Linked DNA regions of Homo sapiens: region 1 is linked to region 2. The links come from fine-mapping of genetic effects on plasma protein levels. A gene starts in region 2. The other region holds a variant in brackets. All regions are shown on one strand. Distances are from middle to middle. Region 1 has its middle 7.9 kb from the start of ADPRH. Region 2 holds the start of CD80 (CD80 molecule).

What was found. A credible set is the group of variants that fine-mapping cannot tell apart. PIP is the posterior inclusion probability: the model's chance that the variant is causal. Protein levels are from antibody-based Olink assays in UK Biobank. Linkage for the fine-mapping came from a reference panel and not from the study's own genotypes, which makes the PIPs less certain.
Region 1: its variant is the best candidate, but not a certain one, in a credible set for the plasma level of the CD80 protein (UK Biobank, PIP 0.54).

The regions. Positions count from the first base shown.
Region 1 is chr3:119,565,365-119,577,771 of GRCh38, reverse strand. No RefSeq gene overlaps it. Among named protein-coding and RNA genes, the nearest start is that of ADPRH, 7.9 kb to the left of the region's middle. RefSeq lists an enhancer at 8,869-9,370. The variant G/T (reference allele first, on the strand shown) is at 5,932.
Region 2 is chr3:119,554,633-119,564,207 of GRCh38, reverse strand. It overlaps CD80 (CD80 molecule), which reads left to right and starts at 4,594. Exons shown (of 7, transcript NM_005191.4): 1 at 4,594-4,768; 2 at 6,280-6,579. The coding sequence starts at 6,480. LOC107986118 (a long non-coding RNA gene) reads right to left here and starts at 3,778. Exons shown (of 2, transcript XR_001740861.2): 1 at 3,463-3,778; 2 at 1,882-1,972. RefSeq lists enhancers at 1,250-1,839, 4,321-4,370, 5,141-5,200, 5,471-5,630, 5,992-6,286 and a silencer at 5,992-6,286.

The sequences.
Region 1 (12,407 bases), 12 kb before region 2:
TATAATTTCTCTAATGTTTTCAACTCAAAGTAATCAATATATTATATGGCATATTTGGGGATGGCACATCCTTCATTCTTTCAACTGTCAAAGATTTTCAGCCTCTGAGGATGCAGTCAAAGCAAGTTCTGTAGTAAGAGACATTTTGAATAATAAGCATCCCGATAAAACTCAACACAGTTTCAGCTTAAGATGTCTGCTGAGGATATTGTTCATATTATGTAGTGATCTTTCTGTGAGAATCCATGGGAAAGGGTGATTTTTTGTTTTCGTTTTTGACTTAAATGTAAAGAATAACTGGGGCTGGGCACAGTGGTTCATACCTGTAATCCCAGTACTTTGGGAGGCCAAGGGGGACAGATTGCTTGAGACCAGGAGTTCGAGACCAGCCTGGGCAACATGGTGAAACCTGTTCTCTACAAAAAATACAAAAATTATCCAGGCATGCGCCTGTGGTCTGAGCTACTCAGGAGGCTGAGGTGGGAGGACTGCTTGAGCCCAGGAAGCAGAGGTTGCAGTGAGCTGAGATTGTGCCACTGCACTCCAGCCTGGACGACAGAGCAAGACCCTGTCTCAAAACACAAACAAACAAACAAAAACAAACAGAAAAACTGGGGTTGTTAGCAATTAGTTTGCTTTGAACTTTATGGTGCCTATGAACTTTGTGACCATTAGCATAGACTCCCGACACATCCACGCTATCTGGTTTCAAACCCTTGTAACAACACTTGGGGGCCAGGCACGGTGGCTCACGCCTGTAATCCCAGCACTTTGGGAGGCCAAGGCAGGTGGATCATGAGGTCAGGAGTTCGAGACCAGCCTGACCAACATGGTGAAACCCTGTCTCTACTAAAAATAAAAAATTAGCCGGGCATGGTGGTGGGTGCCTGTAATCCCAGCTACTCGGGAGGCCAAGGCAGGAGAATTGCTTGAACCCAGGAGGCGGAGGTTGCAGTGAGCTGAGATCGTGCCACTGCACTCCAACCTGGGCGACAGAGTGAGACTCCATCTCAAAACAAAACAAACAAACAAAAAACACTAGCTTGAGTAAGTGATTTTAGACAAGTCACTTCATCTTGCTAAGCTTCACTTTCTGTTATTAAGTAGGAAAAATAATAGTACATATTTCATAAAGTTGGTTTGAAGATTGCATGAAATAATTAATTGAAAAATTTTAGCACAGTGCTTATCAATGTAGTAGTCATGCAAGAAAAAATTACTACCAGGTCAGATATCTCTCTGTATTCCCAGTTCTCATCTCCATCACACACATGAGCCATTCTACCTTCTTTTCACATTAGTTAACACCTACTGACATCCTTTCTCTTCTGTCAAAATTAGAAAATGTTTTTGGGCATCAAGGACATTGTCCTATAAACCAAAAGGATAATTTATCAGTTAGCATGTTTCCAGCTCCAAATAACGGCAAATAACCATCACTCTTCCCCACCCCCAAAACACCACATACTCACTGGGCTTAAATAATAATGGCACTTATTATCTTATGTAACAAAATGTCTAAAGGTAAGAAGTCCCAGGGTTAATTTAGCAACTGTATACTATCATCAAAGAAAGACCCTGTTCTTCTTATCTTTCTGACCTACTATCTTCAGTTATTTTTATCCCCAGACTGACGTTTTTAATTGGCACAAGATCATATTTTCCCCATTTTAATTTATTTTATCAAATGTATATAGAGGTCTTATCCTTCGGTTTGTTTTTGTTTAAACCATTTTGCTATTTTGTGTCTGCTAGCGAGCCCAAGAGGCGTTGCCTATTAACCATTTACTGTTAATTTCTTCGAAAATTTTTGTTTAGCTCTGATTATTTAACTAGGCAGTCAAGATAATGTGTATGCATAATAACACATTGCAGTTACAGTTATAGACAGTGTCCAGTGGAAAAAGAGAGTGTTTCTTCTTTCAAGATGAAGAAACTATTCTCAAAGATCCTCCAGAAGTCTAAACCAATTCCTGGCAGGCAGGCTGGATTATGATGTTTCCCTTAGATCAAGGATAGACACATCTTCCCTGAGAGGTAGAGGTAGGTTCTTTTACAAAAATCAGGGTTTGTTTGCAAAGGAAACAGTGAATGTTGTTCTGCCAAGAAGAACAAATAGTTACTTGGCATCTTACTAGGTGCTAGGCATTAGTATAGGTCCTGGAAAGACAAATATATTGCATAGTTGGTTCCTTGCTCTTAGTTTTATTGAGGAAGACACATCATAGGCATCTTCATTACTCACCAATACAGAATCAATTGCTATGCTGAGGCTGTTGCTGAGAAATAAACTTGTAGCCCTCGGACCTGATCTTAAGATATTTCAGACACTTCATCTATAAGGTCGGAACAATGACACTGTTCTTAACAAACTGGTCACTTACAAGAATGATCTTTATACATTCTTCAGACATTGAATACCTGCTGTGTAAGTATATGCTAGGCCCTGACAGCCCCTGCTCTTCTAGAGCACCCAAGTGATCTCATTTTTCGGCTGCTAACATATTTTTAAAATTACCAAAAAAGTGTTTATATGTTTTCTTAAATCACGTTATTGAGATATGACTGAGATACAAAAAGCTGTACATATTTCGGGTATACAACTTGATGAGTTTGAAGATAAGTAACCAAAAGTAGCTGCTCACATATCCTGTGTTGTCAATTCAATTCAAGAAGATTTAGAGAGCATCTGTGATGGCTAATTTTGTCAGCCTAGCTAGGCCACAGTGCCCAGATATTTGGTCAAACATTGTTCTAGATGTTTCTGTGCAGGTATTTTTTAAGATGAGATTCACATCTAAATCAGTAGCCTTTGAGTAAAGCAGATTACTCTCCCTAATGTGGATGAGCCTCATTCCAATCAGTTGAAAGCCTTAATAGAAAAAAGACTCGCCTCCCCCAAGGAAGAGAGAATTCTGCCAGACTGCCTTTAGACTCGAGCTGCAACTCTTTCCTGGGTCTTTAGCCTGCTGGCCTACCCTGTCGAACCTGCCAGCCTCCACAATTGTATAAGCCAATCCCTTAAAGTAAACTCTCTTTCTCTGCATGTGTGTGTGTGTCCATCCTATTGGTTCTGTTTCTCAGAAGAAACTTGACTAATACAGTATCTAAAATGTGCCAGCCAGTCTGGCGCGGTGGTTCACGCCTGTAATCCCAGCACTTTGGGAGGCCAAGGCGGGCGGATCACTTGAGGTCAGGAGTTCAAGACCAGCCTGGCCAACAGGGTGAAATCCCTTCTTTACTAAAAATACAAAAATTAGCTGGGCATGGTGGCGGGTGACTGTAATCCCAGCCACTTGGGAGGCTGAGGCAGGAGAATTGCTTGACCCTGGGAGGCGGAGGTTGCAGTGAGCCAAGATTGCACCATTGCACTCCTCCAGCTTGGGCAACAAGAGCAAAACTCTGACTGAAAAATAATAAAAATAAATAAATAAATAAACAAAATGTGCCAGCCAAGCACATGCTTGGCGCTTCTTGCACCTACAGAGGTAGGGCAAAAATCACACAAGGAGAGAAGACACTGTACAGTATAATGGCACGAGGCCGTGAGGAGTATGGAAGCAGAGAATGTTCAAGGTACATGGTTGGCAACTATGAGAGAGTTAATGGTATCAGCTCAGTCAGGGTGTTCAGAGACGGCATCCAGAAGATCAGCTCATCAAGGAAAACAGGCTCAGACTTCACCGCTGATTTCAACCAACCACGTGACTGCTGTCCCTTCCTTTTGCAGTTTTGACACAACTGACCATCATTCTGCCCTGATAAGAGACCACCAATCACAGATTGGTTCTGGCCAGCCTACAGAGGACCTGCAGTGAGGGTTTTTGTGTCCTCTGCTTCACCTTTTAACATCAGAGGGCCGAGAACTCCACCCTCAGATCATGCTAATGCTGCCATTTTTTGTAAAAGGGACTCTTGAAGGGGCATGACGCTCAGTTGCACATGCACATGTTTCTCCTTTCATAAATATTCATGACTCCTCCTATAGTTTATTAAATACATGTATTTTTGTAATCCTACCTACTTGGGAGGCTGAGGCACGAGAATCGCTTGAACTTGGGAGGTGGAGGTTGAAGTGAGCTGAGATTGTGCCACTGCACTCCAGCCTGGGTGACAGAGTGAGACCTTGTCTCAATAAATAAATAAATAAATATGTGTACTTGGCTGCTCTGCTCAGCATACATTCCTGTTCCCTTTGCCTTTCCCTGGAGGTGCCTCTTTTTGGCTTCTGGCTGGAAGGCTACACTTCCCAGACTGAGAATGGCCATCCTGCCGTCTGCAACCCTTTATAAAAATAAAGCTCTCTTTTCCAGATTTATAAACCTTGTGAATTTTCAGTTGACAATAAGTTTCTTTTTTTTTTTTTTTTTGAGACGGAGTCTGGCTCTGTCACTCAGGCCTGAGGGCAGTGGTGCAATCCCAGCTCACTGCAACCTCTATTTCCCAGGTTCAAGCAATTATCCTGCCTCAGCCTCCCAAGTAGCTGGGATTACAGGCGATCGCCACCACGCCCAGCTAATTTTTGTATTTTTAGTAGAGAGGCAGTTTCACCATGTTGGCCAGGCTGGTCTTGAACTCCTGACCTCAAGTGATCCACCTGTCTCAGCCTCCCAAAGTGCTGGGATTATAGGCATTAGGCACCGTGCCCAGCTGACAATAACTTTCTAGGGAGGAAGCTGAGGCCAGTGAAGACAGTTACTCAGAGTTTATATAACTCAGTTTCACACATGGAGAGAAGTGGGCCTGGAGCCCATGCCCTCTGAACTCCCAGCCAGGACTTCTTCCATTCCTTCTACTGTCACTTAGAAAAAAATTGAAATGACATGATAGACTAAACACCTATGAAAGATTTGAACCTCCTGAGTCTAATTTTTAAAATATTTGCTGGGCGCAGCTCACGCCTATAAACCCAGTACGTTGGGAGGCAGAGGTGGGAGGATCACTTGAGCCCAGGAGTTCAAGACCAGCCTGTGCAATAAAGTGAGACCCTGTCTCTACAAAATAAATAAATAAATAAAATTATCCAGGTGTGGTGGTGCACACCTGTAGTCCTAGCTACTGAGGAAGCTGGGGCAGGAGGATTGCTTGAGCCTGAGAGTTCAAGGTTACAATAAGCTAGGGTCACACAACTGCACAGTAGCCTGGGTGATAGAGTGAGAACCTGTCTCTAAATAAATAAATAAATATTCTATATCCCACTCCCAAAGAGCCTTAAGCCTCTTGTTGATGACAGTCTAAAAGTGGTATTTAAAGAAAAATCTAAGATATGCACCGTAATTCTAACAAGCAGGCAGGAATCAAATATAGCAAGAGGTAGAGATGGGAGACTATATGGAGAGGAGCAAAAGAGATAAGTGGATACAAACCGGTGTTTTAAAACCTAGGAGTGGCCAGGTGCGGTGGCTCACACCTGTAATCCCAGCACTTTGGAAGGCCGAGGCAGGCGGATCATGAGGTCAGGAGTTCAAGACCAGCCTGGCCAACATGGTGAAACCTCCTCTCTACTAAGAATACAAAATTAGCCGGGCATGGTGGTGCATGCCTGTAATCCCAGCTACTCGGGAGGCTGAGGCAGGAGAATCGCTTGAACCTGGGAGGCAGAGGTTGCAGTGAGCCAAGATCGTGCCACTACACTGTAGCCTGGACGACAGACCGAGACTCCATCTTAAAACAAAAAACAAAAAACAAAAAAAAAACCCTAGGAGCAGCTTCCACCCCTCTCTGCAGAGCAGAAAGAGACCCGAGGGAAGTCCATGTGGATGTGAATCCTGCTCCTCCCAACAATGCAGTAGCCCGCTCCTGTAGGTCAGGGCTTTCCAGCCTTTGCTCTGGAGATCCACCAGTAATTTTCAAATCTTCTTTGGTACATTTCCTGGCAGATGACCTCTGTTGCTCCCTTTCTCCTGGTTTCGCTGGGATTTCCCACAGGAA[G/T]AGAAGCTCAGCTGGCCAGCTGAGTCCTAAGTTCCGCTTCCAGGGTTTACAATGAAACAGCAATGCTCTTGCACACGGTCCCATCCTAAGGGGACTTCACTGCCTGCTAGAATCTCAGTAGGTGAAAATACAGCTTCTAGGAAACAAAAAGTGACTGCTCCCTAAACCAAAAGTTTGGGGGGCCTTACTGAAATTATCTTTCTTTCATGTTATCATTCTTTCTGCCCCACAATTCCTCCACTGGGGTCAACCTGGGCAAATGTACATGAATCTACTCTTATTTCTATTTCTAGAAGAGTCCTTGAGACAAAAGGTAAAGAAAAATCTAGTCAGGGGACATTTTGTTCCTCTTGTTTTTCCAGCAAGCTCCTTCCCCCTCTGATGAGGCAACAGTCCCTCATCCCTTGGTCTCTGGCATTCATTCCTAAAATTACTCTCTGGAGAGAACTCCTGAAGTTTAGGGTGGGGCATCTAAACAAAGGACACCAAAAGGTTTCAAATGGCAGCCAGTTTAGGCACATTTCTTAGTTGTGTCTGGGGCCATTGGAGGAGTCACGCAACCCCAGTGGCCACTGGAGAAATCAGTTCAAGGCTCAGGAGAGATTCAATCTGAGAGTGCTGTTAAGGATCTTCACTCCATAAAATCCTGTTCTTCATCATGTGGTACTTGTATAAATCAGGCCCTCAAGTGGTCAAATTCCTTCTCGTATTCAAATAATAGGTAAATATCTACATAAGGTTAACTTTTTTTGTTTGTTTGTTTGTTTGTTTTTTTTTGAGTCAGAGTCTCACTCTGTTGCCCAGGCTGGAGTGCAATTGTTCAATCTCAGCTCACTGCAACTTCCATCTCCCAGGTTCAAGCGATTCTCATGCTTCAGCCTCCGGAGTAGCTGGGATTACAGGCACCCACCACCATGCCCAGCTAATTTTTAAATTTTTAGTAGAGATGGGGTTTTGCCATGTTGGCCAGGCTGGTCTCAAACTCCTGACCTCAAGTGATCCACCCTCCTTGGCCTCCCAAAGTGCTGGGATTACAGGCGTGAGCCACTGCACCCGGCCACACGTTAAGTTTTAAATGTTGACCCTTCTAGAAAGAGTTATTGAAGGGGAACTTCCCCTTTCCATCCAAGCCTTGCAATTTCTCTTTAATTTTAGGAACAGAATCAAATTCCTTTTCCGAAATCTGGAAACCATGACCTTTGACGTTGTGGACCAACGTAATATAAAAAAAATGGCAACTGTTTGATTCACTTTTCAGAATAATACAAAAAAAGGAAGAAGTGGGGGACAGAGCTGGGGAGGAGAGAGGGAGGAGGAACAGGCTGTTTCCATGACCCTTCAGCTCTAATTCATTCACGCCATGGTGACCCACTTTGAAAGCATAGATCATGTCTGGCTTCTCCTACTGCCTAGTCCTTGGTTCCTGTTTCTCAGGGGACAGGGAAAATGAAATAGAAACTGAAAAGGGTGACTTTTGTAACTTCGTTAGTGGTTCTGGTGGACAGTGTGGCAGGGCAGGGGAGTGGCAGCCAGTGGCAGTGACATTTAACGCCTCAGGTCCTAGAATCGTGGACTGCCTGGGATTCCACCATAGTCCCTTACTCTCAGGCAGAGAAATCTCTGTTTTCCCCAAACAGGATTTGTCTCTTCTCTTCTTAAAGCATCAGGCAATAAAAATTTGCAACCTTCTTTGAAAGTCACCTTTTCCAGCTTCAACACAAAAAAAATGCTTCCTTAAACACAATCAAAATTTATCCTGCTTACATGTAGATTATTTTCTCCAGTTTGGTCGCCTACAGATGTAGAAGGCATTTATGGCCATGACTAGCTCAAAACAAAGAAACAGAAACACCTCAAAGCCACAGAGGATCATTACCAAAGGCCTCAAAATCATTTGGCCCATCTAAAACATCTTGGCTCCCCATTCCTCTGTTCTCTGAGCTGCCTGGTTTAGCATCCTTTTTGTTATTGTTTGTTACTTTCTGCCGGATCCTCTCCACATTTAGTTTGAAATTGGACGTAATATTCCAATAAGGATCTGGGTTCATGTAGAAAGAATCCAAAAAGATAATTTCTGGCCATGGTATGTCATATTGCCACTCATGTCTCGCAATATTTTGTTGGCATTTTCGCCACACTGCAGACTTAAATTCAGCTAGCTGCCCTGCTCTTTTTCTGCTACTGTTTCTTTTTCTTAGGATCGGTCCATGTTGTCCTTATCTCTCCTAGTCAAGCCATTTTGCTTCCCCAATGTTTGAACCCTTCCAGGCACATAGTAGGCACTCAATAAATTTGGGGGGGTGGGGAGGGATTGGAATGATGCCAAATGAGTGGCACAGACATAGGATCTCAGAGAAGGGAAAGAGCAGATGGAGATTTAGAAGAGTCAGGAAAGCTTCTTGGGGAAATGGCATTTGGCCTGGTCCTTTGAGGAAGAAAGATGTTTAGATGGGCAGAGAGAATGGGGAAAGGCAGCCAAGGAAGTTGGGGGACAGTGTGTCAAGAGTCACAGGCAAGGATTATGAGGCAAGGTGGCAGAATAGGAACAGCTCCAGTCTACAGCTCCCAGCGTGAGCGACACAGAAGACAGGTGATTTCTGCATTTCCAACTGAGGTACTGGGTTCATCTCACTGGGGTTTGTCGGACAGTGGGGGCAGGACAATGGGTGTAGCCCACTGAGCGAGAGCCGAAGCAGGGTGAGGCATCGCCTCACCCGAGAAGGGCAAGGGGTCAGGGAATTCCCTTTCCTAGCCAAGGGAAGTGGTGACGGACGGCACCTGGAAAATCGGGTCACTCCCAGCCTAATACTGCACTTTTCCAATGGTCTTAGCAAATGCCACACCAGGAGATTATATGCCGAGCTTGGCTCGGAGGGTCCCACGCCCACGGAGCCTTACTCATTGCTAACACAGCAGTCTGAGATCGAACTGCAAGGCAGCAGCGAGGCTGGGGTAGGGGTACCCGCCATTGCTGAGGCTTGAGTAGGTAAACAAAGCGGCCGGGAAGCTCGAACTGGGTGGAGCCCACCACAGCTCAAGGAGGCCTGCCTGCCTCTGTAGACTCCACCTCTGGGGGTAGGGCATAGCTGAACAAAAGGCAGCAGAAACCTCTGCAGACTTAAATGTCCCTGTCTGGCAGCCTTGAAGAGAGTAGTGGTTCTCCCAGCGTGGAGTTTGAGATCTGAGAATGGACAGACTGCCTCCTCAAGTGGGTCCCTGACCCCCGAGTAGCCTAACTGGGAGGCACCCTCCAGTAGGGACAGACTGACACCTCACACAGCTGGGTACCCCTCTGAGACAAAACTTCCAGAGGAACGATCAGGCAGCATCATTTGCTGTTCAGCAATATTCGCTGTTCTGCACCCTCCGCTGCTGATACCCAGGCAAACAGGGTCTAGAGTGGACCTCCAGCAAACTCCAACAGACCTGCAGCTGAGGGTCCTGACTGTTAGAAGGAAAACTAACAAACAGAAAGGACATCCACACCAAAACCCCACCATCATCAAAGGTCACCATCATCAAAGACCAAAGGTAGATAAAACCACAAAGATGGGGAAAAAACAGAGCAGAAAAGCTGAAAATTCTAGAAATCAGAGCGCCTCTCCCCCTCCAAAGGTATGCAGCTCCTTACCAGCAACAGAACAAAGCTGGATGGAGAATGACTTTGATCAGTTGAGAGAAAAAGTCTTCAGATGATCAAACTTCTCCGAGCTAAAGGAAGAAGTTTGAACCCATCTCAAAGAAGCTAAAAACCTTGAAAAAAGATTAGACAAATGGCTAACTAGAATAACCAGTGTAGAGAAGTCCTTAAATGACCTGTTGGAGCTGAAAACCGTGGTACGAGAACTACATGACGAATGCACAAGCTTCAGTAGCCGATTAGATCAACTGGAAGAAAGAGTGTCAGTGATGGAAGATGAAATGAATGAAATGAAGCAAGAAGAGAAGTTTAGAGAAAAAAGAGTAAAAAGAAATGAACAAAGCCTCCAAGAAATATGGGACTATGTGAAAAGACCAAATCTACGTCTGATTGGTGTACCTGAAAGTGATGGGGAGAATGGAACCAAGTTGGAAAACACTCTACAGGATATTATCCAGGAGAACTTCCCCAACCTAGCAAGACAGGCCAACATTCAAATTCAAGAAATACAGAGAACACTATGAAGTTACTCCTCGAGATGAGCAACTCCAAGACACATAATTGTCAGATTCACCAAAGTTGAAATGAAGGAAAAACTGTTAAGGGCAGCCAGAGAGAAAGGTCGGGTTTTCCACAAAGGGAAGCCCACCAGACTAATAGCGGATCTCTCAGCAGAAACTCTATAAGCCAGAAGAGAGTGGGGGGCCAACATTCAACATTCTTAAAGAAAAGAATTTTCAACCCAGAATTTCATATCCAGCCAAACTAAGCTTCATAAGTGAAGGACAAATAAAATCCGTTACAGACAAGCAAATGCTGAGAGATTTTGTCACCACCAGGCCTGCCCTAAAAGAGCTCCTGAAGGAAGCACTAAACATGGAAAGGAAAAACCAGTACCAGCCACTGCAAAAACATGCCAAATTGTAAAGACCATTGATGGTAGGAAGAAACTGCATCAACTGACGAGCAAAATAACCAGCTAACATCGTAATGACAGGATCAAATTCACACACAAAAATATTAACCTTAAATGTAAATGGGCTAAATGCTCCAATTAAAAGACACAGACGGGCAAATTGGATAGAGTCAAGACCCATCAGTGTGCTGTATTCAGGAGACCCATCTCACATGCAGAGACACACATAAGCTCAAAATAAAGGGATGGAGGAAGATCTACCAAGCAAATGGAAAACAAAAAAAGGCAGGGGTTGCAATCCTAGTCTCTGATAAAAAAGACTTTAAACCAACAAAGATCAAAAGAGACAAAGAAGGTCATTACATAATGGTAAAGGGCTCAATTCAACAAGAAGAGCTAACTATCCTAAATATATATGCACCCAATACAGGAGCACCCAGATTCATAAAGCAAGTCCTTAGAGACCTACAAAGAGACTTAGACTCCCCCACAATAATAATGGGAGACTGTAACACCCCACTGTCAACATTAGACAGATCAACGAGACAGAAAGTTAACAAGGATATCCAGGAATTGAACTCAGCTCTGCACCAAGCAGACCTAATAGACATCTACAGAACTCTCCACCCCAAATCAACAGAATATACATTCTTCTTAGCACCACATAGCACTTATTCCAAAATTAACCACATAGTTGGAAGTAAAGCACTCCTCAGCAAATGTAAAAGAACAGAAATTATAACGAACTGTCTCTCAGACCACAGTGCAATCAAACTAGAACTCAGGATTAAGAAACTCACTCAAAACCACTCAACTACATGGAAACTGAAACACCTGCTCCTGAGTGACTACTGGGTACATAACAAAATGAAGGCAGAAATAAAGATATTCTTTGAAACCAATGAGAACAAAGACACAACATACCAGAATCTCTGGGAAACATTTAAAGCAGTGTGTAGAGGGAAATTTATAGCACTAAATGCCCACAAGAGAAAGTAGGAAAGATCTAAAATTGACACCCTAACATCACCATTAAAAGAACTAGAGAAGCAAGAGCAAACACATTCAAAAGCTAGCAGAAGGCAAGAAATAACTAAGATCAGAGAAGAACTGAAGGAGATAGAGACACAAAAACCCTCAAAAAATCAATGAATCCAGGAGCTGGTTTTTTGAAAAGATCAACAAAATTGATAGACCACTAGCAAGACTAATAAAGAAGAAAAGAGAGAAGAATCATATAGACACAATATCAAATGATAAAGGGGATATCACCACCGATCCCACAGAAATACAAACTACCATCAGAGAATACTATAAACACCTCTATGCAAGTAAACTAGAAAATCTAGAAGAAATGGATAAATTCCTGGACACATACACCCTCCCAAGACTAAACCAGGAAGAAGTTAAATCCCTAAATCCTTAAATAACAGGCTCTGAAATTTAGGCAATAATTAATAGCCTACCAACCAAAAAAAAATCCAGGACCAGATGGATTCACAGCCGAATTCTACCAGAGGTACAAGAAGGAGCTGGTACCATTCCTTCTGAAACTATTCCAATCAGTAGAAAAAGAGGGAATCCTCCCTAACTCATTTTTTGAGGCCAGCATCATCCTGATACCAAAGCCTGGCAGAGACACAACAAAAAAAGAGAATTTTAGACCAATATCCTTGATGAACATTGATGCAAAAATCCTCAATAAAATACTGGCAAACTGAATCCAGCAGCACATCAAAAAGCTTATCCACCATGATCAAGTGGGCTTCATCCCTGGGATGCAAGGCTGGTTCAACATACGCAAATCAATAAACGTAATCCAGCATATAAACAGAACCAAAGACAAAAACCACAGGTTTGTCTCAATAGATGCAGAAAAGGCCTTTGACAAAATTCAACAACCCTTCATGCTAAAAACTC
Region 2 (9,575 bases):
CAAAAGCCAAAATTGACAAATGGGATCTAATTAAACTAAAGAGTTTCTGCACAGCAAAACAAACTACCATCAGAGTGAACAGGCAACCTACAGAATGGGAGAAAATTTTTGCAATCTACTCATCTGACAAAGGGCTAATATCCAGAATCTACAATGAACTCAAACACATTTACAAGAAAAAACAACCCCATCAAAAAGTGGGCAAAGGATATGAACAGACACTTCTCAAAAAAGACTTTTATGCAGCCAACAGACACATGAAAAAATGCTCATCATCACTGGCCATCAGAGAAATGCAAATCAAAACCACAATAAGACACCATCTCACACCAGTTAGAATGGCGATCATTAAAAAGTCAGGAAACAACAGGTGCTGAAGACGATGTGGAGAAATAGGAACACTTTTACACGTTGGCAGGACTGTAAACTAGTTCAACCATTGTGGAAGACAGTGTGGCGATTCCTCAAGGATCTAGAACTAGAAATACCATTTGACCCAGCCATCCCATTACTGGGTATATACCCAAAGGGTTATAAATCATGCTGCTCTAAAGACACATGCACACGTATGTTTATTGTGGCACTATTCACAATAGCAAAGACTTGGAACCAACCCAAATGTCCATCAATGATAGACTGGATTAAGAAAATGTGGTACATATACACCATGGAATACTATGCAGCCAGAAAAAAGGATGAGTTCATGTCCTTTGTAGGGACATGGATGAAGCTGGAAACCATCATTCTCAGCAAACTATCACAAGGACAAAAAACCAAACACCACATGTTCTCACTCATAGGTGGGAATTGAACAATGAGAACACTTGGACACAGGAAGGGGAGCATCACACACGGGGGCCTGTCATGGGCTGGGGGGAGGGGGGAGGGATAGCATTAGGAGATATACCTAATGTAAATGACGAGTTAATGGGTGCAACACACTAACATGGAGCGTGTATACATATGTAACAAACCTGCACATTGTGCACATGTACCCTAGAACTTAAAGTAGAATAATAAACAAAAATTGATAATAAAAAAATTAATTAAAAAAAAAGAGTCACAGGCAGGAAGAGTAAGATGCCAAGTATAGGAGGAAGAGTGTGTGGTGGGTTAGTAAGAAGACGGCCCTCACTCTGAACGAGGGCTAGCTCTGAAAGTCACTTGTTTTCATTTTAAGCATTTTGGTGATTTCCATCTCAAAGAACCAGAAAGAATGTGACAGCATTTTAAGAGGAAGAGGTGAACTCTCCCACTTTGATGAGTTTGCTGCCAACTTTAGCAGGCTGTGGCACTCCTGGGGAGCACCATAGCCTTAAAGCCTAGATCAGCTGCCCTATGATGGGTGCAGGCCTTATAGACATGCCCAGATGAAGTCATATCTAAAAATGAACTTCTAAACCTCACGGGAGGGTCATCTTAGAACATGAAAAACTCCCCTGAAAATTTTTGTCAGTGCAACAGGTTTTGTTTACTTGGCAACAGTGAGCCCACTGTGGGAAAGGGGTTTTCCCAGCAGTCAGGCTAGCACCGTGGGCCCTGAGTAGGCAACCTGCAAATGACAGCACTGAGGCCACTGCCAGGAGCCAGCCCAGCCCTCCCTGTGGATGCTGAACGGAAGGGTAGGAAGGTTGAGCTCAGGCCAGCTTTATCAGCATGAGGAGGTGAAGTGGCTCCAAGGTCAAGAGCAGAAAGATGGAACCTTCATTTCCACAGAGATCATCCTGTTCAGGGGTAAAGCAAAGGGCCAGGCTTCCCCTACGGTGTCGCAACAGCCTCTGCACCAACCTCTGAGTGACAAAGCTGCATCTCCCTCTCGTCATCTCTTCCTGCTGGGTCCTCTACAGTCTGTGATTGTGTTTTCATTTCATTTATAATGTCTTTCATTGTACAAATATTTTTAATTTTTATGAATTCAAATCTGTGTATCTTTTCTTTTTTCGTGGCTTCCAAGTTTTGTGTCTTGCTCACCCTAGAATTATAAAAATATACTTTCATAAATTTATCCTTTCAATTTTTCACATAAAAATTTTTAAAAGAATTTTTATGTGAATTATTTTTAAAAGAATTTCTTTTACTTTTATTACAGTAAAGCCAAGGATGGATTTACAAAAAAATAAGTGGCACTAAAGAATTTACACTGAGGAGCAGTAATTCCTGCTTTATTCTTCTCCAACCCTGGGTCTGCTCCTCAGAACAAACTCATTTAAAGTTTTTTTGTTTTGTTTTGTTTTGTTTTTGAAACAGAATCTTGCTCTGTCACCCAGGCTGGAGTGCAATGGCACAATCTTAGCTCACTGCAACCTCCGCCTCTGAAGTTCAAGCAAGTCTCATGTCTCAGCCTTCCCAGTAGCTGGGATTACAGGTATGCACCACTATGCCCAGTTTTTTGGTTTTTTTTTTTTTTTTGGAGAGCTGGGGTTTCATCACGTTGGCCAGCTGGCCTCGAACTCCTGGCCTCAAGTGATCCGCCCACCTCAGCCTCTCAAAGTGCTGGGATTACAGGCATGAGCCACTGTGCCCAGCCTCCTTTTAAATCTTTTACTTGGTTTTGTTTTGTTTTGTTTTGTTTTCCAGTAATATAGGTATTCGGGTTCGGCTTCCTTTGCCCGTCTTCATCCATCTCACCTCCAGTGTCCAGAAATTTACCTTAGAAATCTGTGGTCCACAGGTCATGCTCCTAGACACATTGTAGGAGGAAGAGGAATTAAACACATCCCATTAGTACATAATCTTGGAAGAGAAGCCTTCTGAATTTTACAATCAGGATTGGGGAAACTCTGTAAAGTACCTTCCTGGTGTTCCTTTCTTCCAGCCTCTTTGATTAAGTCACATCAAAGCGCTAATGGCAAAGTTGTTTAATGTGTGTTTCTCCAAGGCAGGTTAGGATTTCACTGGGATTCTTAAAATTTGAGGGTGTCTGTGATCGTCAAAATTTGTATTCATGTAGTCCCTCATGAAATTTCTAAAACTCGGCTGGGTGCAGTGGCTCATGCCTGTAATCCCAGCACTTTGGGAGGCCGAGGAGGGTGGATCACAAGGTCAGGAGTTTGAGACCAGCCTGGCCAATATGGTGAAACCCCATCTCTACTAAAAATTTAAAAATTAGCCTGGCATGGTGGCACACGCCTGTAGTCCCAGCTACTCAGGAGGCTGAGGCAGAAGAATTGCTTGAACCCAGGAGGCGGAGGTTGCAGTGAGCCAAGATTGCACCACTGCACTCCAGCCTGGGCGGCAGAGAAAGACTTCATCTAAAAAAAAAAAAAGAAAATAAATTTCTAAAACTCTGTATTTCTTTGCTCTTTTAAGTTGACATCTATAACTTTCTATTACTTTAAATACCTGGAAAAAAAATCACTTCCAGTGCATTGTAATAATGTATCAAGTAGAAGTGGCTAAAATCAGTGAAAACATTTCTTTGATCTGAATAAATGTTCAAGAAAATAGAAAACATGAACTTACCTCCAATCTATGTTCCCTTTACTTGAAAATGTAATGTTGATCTACTAGAGGTAAGGCAGGAATTGTCACATCCATATTCCTTGCAACTATTCAAAATATGCATCTGAGACCAGAACAAGACACAGGTGAAGAAGGGTGCTCACTAGGCCCCTTCTGCCAATACAGAAGGAGACAGTGCAGTGGAGTCCTTTCATAGCAAGTTCTGCCTTCATGATTTCCAAAGCTTCAGTATTCCAAATCTCAGGTGAATAGGGTGGTATCCACTAAGCTCTGCCACAAACTTGTTGCTGAGATGAAGGAAGCCGCCGCTGTAGTCAGTATTTCTCACCCACACGGTTTGCTCTCTTTCTGGCTGGTGTGGGAAGGATGGCGTCTTTTTTTTTTTTTTTTTTTTGAGATGGAGTCTTGCTCTGTTACCCAAGCTGGATTGTAGTGTTGTGATCTCGGCTCACTGCAACCCATGCAAGGTGCTGTCAGGTTCCACCTGTGCAAACAAGTACACTGGTCCAGCATGGGTCAGCTGCTCACTCACAGGGGCTCCAGAATCCTACAAAGGGACACACAGGGGTGGGTGGCAACCTAGTTGGAAATGGGAGTGATGGGCATGACTAAAGTCTTCCTCATCCCACCAGAGGCGCACTCAACTGTGGCTAGGGTGACCAGAATTCACTGTCCAGCGTGGCTGGCAGGAGCCCACTCTCTGAAGATGGTGGGATTCAGAGGTGGGAGTAGAGTTGGGTGGTCCTGTGAGCTGAGCACTCTCCCAAAAGTGTCCCCTACATATGAGGTTGACAGCTTATTCCTGCAGGGACTCAGGAGTAACTCTGGGTGCTAAAACAAAACTTGAGACCAGCACAGAAACAGCCAGCCCATGAAGCTGGCCTCCCATCACACAGCAAGGCTAGCCAGATGCCCCTCACTCTTCTCGGGCACCATTCTTCTCCTCCCCTAGGCCGCCTGGTGCTCGTGGTGTTTCATGTTTGTTAGTCCATGCACGGTGGTGAGGGAGGCTGCTGTGTGATTTGCCCCAGCCACAGCCTCTACAAAAGCAACTAGAAGAAGACGGCAGCAGAGGGCGCTTCTTCAAACACCCTGTCCAACTCCTGGCACTGACAAGTACTGAGTGAACTCAAACCCTCTGTAAAGTAACAGAAGTTAGAAGGGGAAATGTCGCCTCTCTGAAGATTACCCAAAGAAAAAGTGATTTGTCATTGCTTTATAGACTGTAAGAAGAGAACATCTCAGAAGTGGAGTCTTACCCTGAAATCAAAGGATTTAAAGAAAAAGTGGAATTTTTCTTCAGCAAGTAAGTACATTTACTATTATCTTACTATGGGATAGCTTGGTAGAACTAGTTACCAGCAACCTCACTGCTTTTTAAACAAACAATACCTCTGCTACCACCTCCTGGATCCAGGCTTGCCCTCAAAGGAACCCTTAGGGTCTCATTCCCACAGGAGGCTGTGGCTTCCCGACATATTTGGAGCATCATAGTGAGAATTGTGGCCCATTATTTTAAAATATCCTAGATCCTAGCAAATATTGTTTTTGTGGGCCGTATTTGAATTTCTCAAGCCAGTAAAATTCTAGTGAAAGTGGGAAAATCGCTTGAGCTCGGGAGGTTGAGACTGTGGTGAGCTATGGTCACGCCACTGCACTCTAGCCTGTGTGACAGAGCAAGATTCTATCTTAAGAAAAACAAATTCTGGTGAATAAGTCTCTTTTAACTAATCCTGTCTAAAATGGATGATGGCTAATAAAACAATATGGCGTGGCTGGAACTCTAGCTCTAGGGTGGTCTCCAAAGAGGACACTCAAGCATTCTCTGAGCAGCACGGGGCTGTGTCCTGGTAGCAGCCTGAAGGGGTGACAGTGGAGCACAGTGTTTATTTTCATTTCTCAATTTTGACATATTTACTGGAAAAATTAATCCCTAGCCACCTCACATGACAGTACATAATTTTTTTTTTTTTTTTTTTTGAGATGGAGTCTCACTCTGTCGCCTAGGCTGGAGTGCAGTGTTGCAATCATCTTGGCTCACTGCAGCCTCCACCTCCTGGATTCAAGCAATTCTCGTGCCTCAGCCTCCCAAGTGGCTGGGATTACAGGCACCCACCACCACACCTGGCTAATTTTTGTATTTTTGGTAGAAATGGGGTTTTGCCATGTTGGCCAGGCTGGTCTGGAACTCCTGGCCTCAAGTAATCCGCCCACCTCAGCCTCCCAAAGTGCTGGGATTACAGGCGTGAGCCACCACGCCTGGCCCTGGAGTACATAATTTTGATAAGTAACGTCTGCAGTGTCTTTTTTTCCCTCCCTTTTTATGGATAGACTTTTCTGGTTATTGAGATCTCATACCCCTTTATGATATATTATTTGAGTAGAGGGTTTAAAGAATTGAGATACTTGTTTTCTTATGTTAATATGTCAAGAAAGAAGTTGTTTCATAACTTAGGTCCTGCCTTGGACAAAATACACCCTTACTGTCTGCTCTATGTTTCTTGGTATGTTCAGAAGAGGATTTGAACTTTTGCAGGTTGGCTAACAGATATGGAGGGTCCTTAGAGCTCTCCTGTTTCTAACCAAATCTTCACCCCACCTATTAAGTAGAAAGCCTTTTCATGGAAGGGCTGTGGTTGGTTCTTGGAACTGGTCCCCTCACAGAATTTCCATTCGCTTTTCCTCAGGGTCACGCCCTGCTTTAGAGGTTGCTTAGGTTAAGCTCTCCAATTAATTTTAGCAGGCAACTCGAGAGTTTTGCAACTCAAAGTAGGCACACCTTCCTTCCTGAATGACTTTTATTTGTTCCTTTTTCAGGCTGTGAAACTAAATCCACAACCTTTGGAGACCCAGGAACACCCTCCAATCTCTGTGTGTTTTGTAAACATCACTGGAGGGTCTTCTACGTGAGCAATTGGATTGTCATCAGCCCTGCCTGTTTTGCACCTGGGAAGTGCCCTGGTCTTACTTGGGTCCAAATTGTTGGCTTTCACTTTTGACCCTAAGCATCTGAAGCCATGGGCCACACACGGAGGCAGGGAACATCACCATCCAAGTGTCCATACCTCAATTTCTTTCAGCTCTTGGTGCTGGCTGGTCTTTCTCACTTCTGTTCAGGTAAGCAACTTTCAGGAACTTAACTGAGTCAACTGCTACAGGGTTAAGAGAAAGGACATGGGGTTCTCTGAGCTGCTCCCTTCTATTATCCTATAAGCTGGAAGGAACCTTCAGGGTGTTTTCAGAAGATTTTAAAGATTAGAAGACTGTGGTCCAAAGAGGTTAAAGGACCTGCCTATCATCACACAGCAAGTTAGCAACCAAGTTAACTCAAGAACCCAGGCCTTCAAGGAAGCGTGGAAGGGACAGTGTTATTTTAACAAAACCATACAGCCGATTCATAATGGTCTCTTCCATGAATATTAGATGCTCATTTACATTTTGTGATGTGCCGATACTGGCCTCGGAGTCTAGTCCCAAACTATGTTTTCATGATACAGCTCAGCGAAAGTGTCCTGCTTCTAAAATTGAACAATGGTGATCTTCTTTCCAATCTGAAGGCGGGAGAGTAGTTGAGGACAATTCCTCTTAATGACATTCATCTTCTTAACCTTCTTAAGTTCCTCTTAATACATTAATCTTATTTGTTCTGCTTTGGATGCTGAGATCTTTTTTCAACATTGGCATCTGACTTTAAGTGGTATCAGATTTAACACAAAATTATGTTTTTAGTTATTTTTAATCTGCCACATAGGTATTACATATATGTCCTGAAAGTAATAATTTGACTTCTAGAGGCTTTTGTTCCTGCTCAGGTGATCTTAAGAGTGCTGAACTTTTGGGACTGTCAAGAAGGGTGAGGCTTGTCCCTGCTGGCAGGATGGTTCTGATTTTTTTTTTTAAGTCAGAAAACAAAAGATCTGTTTTCTAGTGAGCAGCATACTTCCCAGTTTCCCAAAAACAAAGAAGTTTGGGCTCCAGCATGATTTGCCAGTCTGCAAAGACCCGACTATTAAGGGTCCTTGTCTTAAAAACTTCTCACATAAAGTACTGCCTAGAATATCAGAGGTGTGAGAGAGAGGTAGAGGGAAGAGAAGAGGAGTTGGGGGCCCACAGATTACTTGACTGCGATGGTGGTCATTTAAAATTTTCTGTCCAGAGCTATTTTACATTGTTTCAGAACCAAGAGAAACATGGCCTACATTTCACAATTTACACCTCAGGTTTTTTATATATTTGACAGTTACATTACATTTCCAACAGTTACAATTTCCTTCTGGGGAGCTGGGGAAGCATTCCCAAACTAGTCTTCTGGGGAGTACAGAGGAGTTTAAAATATATAGAAGGAAATTTGTACAGGCTTCCCAGAAATAAGGGGGGCAGGGAGGGGGAGAGACAGAAAGAGGGAGAACAATAAAAAAAGTAAAAGAGGACATAAAATAAAAATTAAAACCCAGACTTTAGAAATTGTACAAGGAAAATTAGGGTCAGAGGTAAGTGGAAAGAGATCTTTGAGCTAAAGAAAGATGTTTAGGAAAGCACCTTGTTCTCTAGCTACATCCTGGTTTTACTGCTGCTGTGACTGAGTCAATGAAGCACCTACTGTGTGCCAGGTGGGCCATAAAAGTTGAGGCTAGGATTCCTGCACTCAAAGAGGTCTGCATATGTTAGTTGCGGAAATGCAAAGCTAACCCATGTAGAACAAGCAAAGAGCAATGAAATGCTTTGCCCTGATTGTAGGAGCCCAAGATCTGGGAAAGTGGGTAACAGACTGGGCTGCAGGAAGGAGGGCAGGCTTTACAGAGGCAGATGGATGATGGAGAGAGAATTCTGGTCAGGGCAACAGCCTGGACAAAGGCACAAAGGTAAGGATGAGGCTGGCACAGGTGTTCATTCTTTTGTTTAATCATTTATTAATTCAACAAACATGAGCATCTCCTAAAACCAAGAGACTTTTCTTGGTCCTGGGGACATGGCTCTTGCATTTGTGAAATTTACTATCATTGGAAAGAGGAAAAGTAATCCAATAGCCACTCAAATGAATGTGTTAAAGTGTGGCCAACAAACAAAGCCACGTGCTTTGAAGGCAGGGCACAGGCACTGCCTGAGGAAGTGCTGTCTTCCTCTGCCAGCAAGAAGGGGCAGTGAGCTGGGAAGTAGCAGAGGAGGGACTGGCCCAGTGAGCAAGAACCGGACCCTGCAGCACTTGTGAGTTATAATCATGAATCCGCATGTTATTCAGGAAGCTGGAAGGGCTTTACCCAGGAGAGTGGCGTGGTCTACCCCAGCTCTGTTCACTCTTTACACATACCAATAGCCTGGGGGTTTTGCTAAATTGCAGTTTCTAGCACAGGGAATTTTTTAGAGAAGTGAATCTATTTTGCATAATACTGTAATGATAGATATAAGTCATTATAAATTTGCCCAAATCCATAGAATATGCAATACCAGGAGTGACCCCTATCGTGAACTCTAGATTTGGGGTGGTAATGATGTGTTAATGTAGGTTCATTGATTGTAACAAGTGTACTGCCCTGGCGCAGGATGTAGACAGTGGCGGAAGCTGTGAATATGTGGGGAGGGGGTTACTTTACATTCAATTTTTCGATGAACCTAAAGCAGCTCTAAAAAATAAAGTCTATATAGTTTTTTAAATGCTGTTTCTGCTTAGGTGGGTCTGGGATGGGGCCTGAGATTCTGCATTTCTAAGAAGCACCTAGGTGATGCTGATGCTGCTCCACCATACACTTTGAGTTTCAGTAGTAAAGGTGTAAATAACTTTAAAAGGAAAAAAGTGTTACTGAAGAACAGAGTGGCTTGTAGGGCAGCCACAGTGACTGTGCAAAACCTATTAGGAGGTTATTTCAGTAACTTACAGTAACTGATGATGTCTTTAATGAAAAGAATTGGATCAGAAGGAAGTTGATGGGTTGGAGAGTGTGTACCATGTAAAATTAGTGAGGACTGCTCAACGGGAGTGTAGGTGTGAGTGTGCATGGTCTGTGGGAGGTGAGATTCAGTGAATACAGTGGAGTAGGATTATAGAGGGCTTTATTCAGGGCAGAGATTTGCCACACTAGGCCTTCCTCTCCTGCCACACCATGGCAGAGGTGTTC